Linked DNA regions of Homo sapiens. The protein of the gene in region 1 interacts with the protein of each later gene in a pairwise test. Each region holds a gene or a part of one and is shown on either strand. Other genes may lie near its edges. The genes, in order: COX20 and SLC10A1.

Region 1 (3,775 bases):
CTGAAGCTTGGGAGAGATTAGGGTTTGATTTAGAAATCTGGAGTCATCATATAATGGCATTTAATTGAAAGCCTTGGGATACCTAGGAAGAGACTAGATTCCAAAGGAGTTAAGAGTGGCACTTCAGAATCAGGTCTGTAGAGGAGGGAACAGCAACAAAAATGTCAATGAAATAGAAAACCAGGAGACGTATTTGAAGCCAAGTAAAAGTAAAAAAGTTTCAAAAACAAATGATAATTTGTGCCACATATGCTGAGATGCGGATTTAGACTGCAGTGGATGTCTTTTAGAGGTCTTGACTGGTGTCAAGTGAAGTTCAGTGGATAGATGCCTCACTCAAGTGAGTTAAAGGGAGAATGGGAGGTTTTAAGTAGAAAAGCACACCTACACTCAGAAGTTTTGCCCCAAAAGGATGGTGGTTTAGGTGGCTGATGAGAGGAGAGGGGTGTATAGAGGATTTTTGGGTTTTTTTTTTGAGATGGAGTCTTCTTGCTCTGTTGCCCAGGCTGGAGTGCAGTGGTGCCATCTTGGCTCACTGCAACCTCCGCCTCCTGGGCTCAAGCGATTCTGCCTCAGCCTCCCGAGTAGCTGGGATTACAGGCATGTGCTACCATTCCTGGCTAATTTTTGTACTTTTAGTAGAGACAGGGTTTTGCCATGTTGGCCAGGCTGGTCTCGAACTTCCGACCTCAAGTGATCCACCCACTTTGGCCTCCCAAAGTGCTGGGATGACGGGTGAGCCACTGCACCTGGCCAAGAGGGCTGATAGTAAATTATTGCAAGTGAAAAAACTAACGATGCAAATGAAAGGGGTAGCTATAGAAGCCAAGCCCTTGAGTATGCAAGAGGGGAATCAAGTGCCCAAGTGGGAAGACTAGCATTAGATAGGAATAGGGCCAATTCATCCTTTGCAACCAGAGGAAAGAAATACGGGCACTGAAGCAGATTTAGTGGTGGAAAATCAACTGTCTCTAATTTGATCAGATCTATTTCTATACATTATTGACATTCTGGCTTGGAAATCTCTTGAGCTTTCCTTAGATTGATCAGGGTGAGCTGGTAAAGCTGCTTTTCTAAATCTAAGCTTAAAAAATGTCTGACATTTCCTTAATTTATTTTTAAGGGTTCCCGTTTGTTAGTGGCAAAGAGTTAAATCTTAAGTATGCAGGCTACTTAAGGAATAGAAGAGAAATGTTAAAGGCATGTATATTATGAACAGAATATTTCCGTATATAAATAGAATACTTCAAAGGGAGTTATGCCCGGGATCCTTTATTCATCTCCACTTCTGAGCATTTTACAGTTCAGTGTACTTAACTGTAAAGGTATACAGGCTCAAGTCGTTGCATATTCTTCCTGTTTTGATAGAAATTGCAGGGATTTATGTACTGAATCTTATTACTCCTTAGATATGTGACAACTGGAAAGCTCCCCACCAAACCCTCCAGCCTTGGTTACTTCTTAATGATGTGGTTTGGCACAATGAAAATGTCATAGGCTTTGTGGTGAAACTGACTTCTGCCTCCACTCCTGCCAACACTTATTATTAGCCTCTTAAGTCCCCGAGCCTGTTTCAGAGGTAATCTCACACAAAGGCTAGAGAATTAAAAAACATGTAGAGAGCCTGGCACTAATACCTACCTCCCCCACCAGCAGCTCTTAATTATGAGATCAACCACTATTATTTTAGACCAGAGTTTTGTTGGGGATTGGGTTTGTTTCAGAAGGCACTATTTTAAATAAGATGTGTAGCTTCTATTTAGATATTTGCCTTTAAAGTCAGCTGAGCTATTTTCCTATTGTTTGCAAATTTACTTTTATTTAAAAAAATAAAATTTCCTAAAGCAGTGTTTCCCCAATATGACAGTCATCAGAAAAAACCACCTAGAGTTTTCTAAACATAGATTCCAGTGATTGTAAATCAGAATCTGAGAGTGGGACTAGAAAATACTTAATTCTATCCTGTGGTACAAGCTGGTCTCACACTTGCATCTTTGCACCTAAGACTAGATCAAACTGGTACTAATCCTCTGGCCCCAGCATCCCATCCTTGGGGAAATAGTCTAGTTTAGAGGTAGTCCTGGACTGGAGCGCTAAGTCCAGCATTCCTCACCTGCATAACACTACCCACATGATCATATGTCCCCTGGGCTCTCAAGCTGATAGGAAAAAGTCGTCTTGCTAAATGAAATCCCCCAACCTCTTGGTAATGTGAAGAACTGTACTGCAAAGCTTTGAAGCAATCCTATGTTAGGCATGCGGGTGGGAACGGGGCCAGACAGAGGGAAAAAATGGAATAGAATGATCCGAGAGTAAATAATTCTTGCTTTATTATGAACCAAGTCACATTTTGTCTCTTCCAACAGATGCTTGAGCCAAAAAAGCAAACATAGGCAGAAATACAATTGAGAATATCTTCATGTTTCAACCTTTAATCTGACTTGCCTTTTACTATCCTTTCCCCATTTCTTCTAATCTCTTTTGCCTTACAATATATTACCTTCTAGGTATCACCTCATCCTATAGAATCCCTTCTAGTTTAATGTCCTGCCCCAAACAATACTAACCCATTGAAGATAACTATGAAACCTTTAAATGGACAGTGGTTCCTTTTAAAAGCAGCCTTACTGAAAATTTTATATACACTTAAATCAAGTAACAGTTACCGTGAGTTTTCTAAACTTTTGTGTTAACAGAAATGCCAGTTCAGCAGTGTGACTGTTACTTTTAAATGTCTGTCTTGCCGCCCTAGAGTGACAGACATCCCAGTTAAACATATTAGGAATAAGAAATACATAAATCCAATGAAGACTGTAGAAAAAGAATTTTAGCACTTGAAGGAACTTCAGTCATTTAACCCAACCCATTCATGTTATAGATTGAGACCATAGAAATAAAAGTAGCCTATAGGATACAAAAGTTAGCGGCAGATCTGAGATAAAAATCCAGCTCTTTGGATCCCCGCGTTTTTCACCACACTTAGCTGTCGTTCCCATGTATTACGAACAAAGAATCAAATATAATCAAGTGCAGCCTCACTTCACAGGCAAGAAAACAGACTAGAGTTTAATATATTGCCCATGTTTATCTTAAGGTGAAACATTTACTCTTACAACCACAGTTGATGTTAACCTAGTTAATAAAATATGAAAGGTAATTACTAGGGGAATTTTAAACGGCACTACATAAGCAAACATGACTCAAATTACTTTTTCCATTTCTGCTTCCCAAATTATTGGAGTTACTGAAGCAAGCTATGCTGCTTTCAATTCCAATGATAGGCATATTCCCAAATAAACTCATTTAAAGAGCTCATAAAATGAATTATCCTATTTCCAAGTCAGTTGATTAGCAAATTAAGATACAGCTCCAAGTTACCCTACTGCTTAAGGGTTTTCCGGTCCAATTTGTAAGGTTTTCGGATTTAAAGATTCAGACTGCATACCAAAGGTGGACAAAGACAACGCAAGCTGATTTAGGTTGTCACGTGGCACATACTCTAGTTTAAACCCTCAACTACAAGAAAAGAAATGGTGTATTGTCATTTTTGCCAAAGCACCCCAAAATGAAATACTTTCTTACTCAATCTAGGTTCTTTTTTTTCATTCTAGTCCCTTAAGCTCCTAGGATTTTTAGATGTTGAAAATACTCCCTGCGCCCGGCATTCAATATTGTATGGTTCATTAGGATCTGTTGTGGCTGGCTTTGGACATTTTTTGTTCACTAGTGAGTATCTGTATTTTTTATTTCTCTATGTACTAAAAAAAGCATTTCT
Region 2 (3,825 bases), on another chromosome or scaffold:
CCAGGTCAGCATTTCCACAAACAAAATGGCCAGACAGCCTCAAAGGCATGGGCAGACACCCGTGTCTCAGCAGCAAGTATTGTGTGGGAGCCAGAGCTTCCCACTTTTCAAAAGAAGGTAAAATATCCATTTTATGTGAAATCAGCAACTCATTCCATTTTTTTAAATGTGCAAACCAAACAATACATGTCAAAGGGCCAGCTGTAGCCCAAAGGCCCCAGTTTGAGATAAGCACAATACTCTACATCCCATTTAGAACTGGAAGGAATTGTAAGACACAGATCCCATTTTACACATGAAGAGGCTGAGGTCAGAGACTTGCCAGAGGTTTCCCAGAGTTTGTGGGAAACTGTGTCTCCCTCCACTCACTCTGCCTCATAGGTGGAGTCAGTCTGGGGACAGCCTGCCATCCCAGGAGGCCAGGCCACCAAGCAGACCCCTCAATGCAGCCAGGGACGGCAGCTCCCTCCTCAAGGAAGGCCACTAGACAAGTTTCAAAAAATGTAGGTGACAAACAGGCAAGAGAAAACGCCCTCACAGTTGAAGTGAGTATGGCTTGTCAGGCACAGAGAAGAGAGTGCTATGCCAGCAGGAACTGGCCTCTTTTGACCATCCTTGCTGCCCCAAGTTCATCTGCTCCCCCTGCCACCATCGGACTCACAGCAGAGCCCAGAGCCAATGGCCATGGGGACAATGGGCTTGGACACAACCCAAGCACTTCCACAGGTCTCCCAGCCATGATGTAGGAAGCTCAACCAGGACAAGATGGAAGCCACTGGGGTCCCAGAAGTTTTCCACTTCATAGAGACTGTGTTGAGGCCCCTCACAGCTCCCTCAGCTTCTGCCTCCAATCTGTGCATTGACGGACACTCGAACGAGTCCCTTAAATGGGGTACACAGATGTCCAAAAGCAAGGTCTATGCTGTGCTCTTGGAACTTAAGCAGGAGGGAAAAATAAAAAAAACAAATGTGCCCCTTTCCCCCTGAAAGGCAACCAGGCCTACAATCTCAGGAATCTAGAGTCTGAAAAAGTCCTTGCCCGTCCCTGTCCCTTGGGGTAAACCAAGGATCACAACAGTCACGGATGCCAGCAGGCTAGGAGATGGATGTCCCTGACCTGACCCCAGGACCTGTGCAAGTGGAGGAAGTACCTGGGGATCAGGGAACATGGCTCCTGCATACCCAAGCTGACAAGGCACACCAAGTCCAAACTCCAAAACTCCTGACACACAAGCCAAAGTAAGCATGATTCCTCTGCTCTAGGTCACCAGAACAAACACACAAGTTGTGTTTGGCTTTTCCCTAAGAGAAGATCAACAGTAGCATTGAAACCCCCTGTATTCCTATTCCCAATCTCATTACCCTCCACCACTTGCCAAAGGGAGCATCCCTGGGAATTTGGTGTTCAGCATTTCCACCGACCCTTTTCAACTATTATATACGTATATATTCATAAACAAGATAGACTGCGGGATTTACGTCTTTTAATTTTGTACGAACAGTATTATACTGTCCACATCACCTAACAGCTTGCTTTTTTTTTTTTTTTTTGAGAAATAGGCATGTAAAGAAAATAGCTACCTCATGTATCTGAACTGCTGTGCAGTTTGCTTGCATTTATCCATTCTCCTGTTGTCAGATTCATGTGGATTTTACGTCTCGCTTCTGTGAACAGACTTGTGTGTGTCCCTCTGCCCACATGAGGGCATATGCAATTGAAGCAGGACTGCTGGGTCGTGGGAGTCACACATCTTTAAGAGGTCTCCAAGGTCATTGTTCACTTCACACGTTCCCTAGCAGTGTCTGAAGATCCCTGTTTCTCTGTGCCTTCATCTATATTTGGAATTGTCAGACTTTTTAATTTTTTCCAAATGAAAACAGTGAAGCAGATCGCAGTAGTTTTAAATTTGATTTCATGGGAGGCCTACCACATTTCCACGTGTGCGTTGGCCATTCATGTGTCCTCTTCTGGAAACATTGGGTCCTTTGCCTGTTTTTCTATGGGATTGTGGTTTGGGTGGGTTTTGAAAATTAATTTCTAAAGTTATTGTTTTATATATGTTGCAACAGTCTATTCACAGTTTGGAGCTGGTCTTTACACTTTGATAATAATGTCTGATAGATTGCTTATGTTAATTTAGTCAAATTTGCCAATATTTTTCCTTTGTGGTTTATGTTTTTTAGGGGTTTCTTTAAGAAATCTTTTACTATCTACAAGCCTGTCCAACATGGCAAAACCCCGTCTCTACTAAAAAATACAAAAAAATTAGCTGGGCATGGTGATGTGCACCTGTAATCCCAGCTACTCAGGAGGCTGAGGCATGAGAATCACTTGAACCCAGGAGGCAGAGGTTGCAGTGAGCCAAAATCATGCCACTGCACTCCAGCCTGGGCGACAGAGCAACACCCTGTCTCAAAAAAAAAAAAAAAATTTACTGTCTACAAAGTTACAAAGATATTACCCTGTATTTTCTTTGAAAAGTTTTAAATGTTTGATTTTCACATGGAGAGCTCCAATCAATGTAGAACTTATTTTTATGTATGGCATGAACTAATTTTATCTTTTCCATACAAATAGAAGATTCCAAGCCACGTTGAGTGAATTTTTCTCCAGGTATTTGTAATGACATCTCTCTCATAAATGCAGGGCTTGTGTCTGGATCTCTCTTCTCTTCTACGGGTCTATGTGGCTACCCTTGTACCAGTTCCACACTTTCTTAATTACAATTTTATAAGTTTTGTTATCTGAAAGTTAAGTCCCCCTACTTTGTTCTTGAAAATCATGGGCCGGGCACAGTGGCTCACGCCTGTAATCCCAGCACTTTGGGAGGTCAAGGCTGGCCGATCACGAGGTCAGGAGATCGAAACCATCCTGGCTAACACGGTGAAACCCCGTCTCTCCTAAAAATACAAAAAATTAGCTGGGCGTGGTGGCGGGCGCCTGTAGTCCCAGCTACTTGAGAGGCTGAGGCAGGAGAATGGCGTGAACCCGGGAGGCAGAGCTTGCAGTGAGCCAAGATCACACCACTGCACTCCAACCTGGGTGACAGAGCGAGACTCTGTCTCAAAAAAAAAAAAAATCATGTTAGCTATTCTTAGCCTTTTACTCTTTCACTTGAGTTTCAGTATCACCTTTCAAGTCTACAAAAAAAATTATAAGTCTGGAAGTTTTATTAAATGTGCATTACATTTATATATAAATTGAGAGACTATCTTTATAATATTGAATCTTCCCATCTATAAATATGATATAGCTTTTCTTTTACTTAGGCCTTTTTTAATACCTTTCTATAAAGGTTTGTAATTTCTTTCATAAAGATCTTACATGTCCTTTAGATGTATAAGTATTTTCTAGTTTTGTGAATATCATAAATGGTGTCTTTTAAAATATATATATATTTGTTTCTAGTATATCAGACCCAATTGATTGACTGACTGATGCTAATGTATTTAGAACCTCATACATTTTCTTACTTACCAGTTATAATGGAAAATTACTTAGATTTCTTCTGTGGACAATCCTATCATTGGCAAAACAAGAAAGTTTCATTTCTTCTTTTCCCATCCCTATACTTTTTCTATTTCTTGTTTTGCTGTGCTTACTAGGGCCTATATATAGTATAATTTATAAAACAGGTAATAATAATGACTATCTTTGCTTTATTCCTCTTGTTAAAGAAAATCCCTCTATTTACCATTAAGTTTAACGTTTAATATACTTTTTCTAATAGATTTCCTTTCAAGTTAAGGAATTTTCATTCCGTTGCTAGTGTACTAAATTTTTATTATGTAAGAACATTAAATTTTGTTGACTTTTCTATAGCT

Evidence for each region.
Region 2: the proteins of COX20 (region 1) and SLC10A1 interact in binary tests that used the Homo sapiens proteins (3 or more experiments, as listed by UniProt).

The regions. Positions count from the first base shown.
Region 1 is NC_000001.11:244,838,333-244,842,107, forward strand, and holds part of COX20 (cytochrome c oxidase assembly protein COX20, mitochondrial), read left to right. Parts: intron 1-3,611; coding exon 3,612-3,726; intron 3,727-3,775. UniProt on the Homo sapiens protein: Essential for the assembly of the mitochondrial respiratory chain complex IV (CIV), also known as cytochrome c oxidase.
Region 2 is NC_000014.9:69,790,560-69,794,384, reverse strand, and holds part of SLC10A1 (hepatic sodium/bile acid cotransporter), read left to right. Parts: intron 1-3,825. UniProt on the Homo sapiens protein: As a major transporter of conjugated bile salts from plasma into the hepatocyte, it plays a key role in the enterohepatic circulation of bile salts necessary for the solubilization and absorption of dietary fat and fat-soluble vitamins.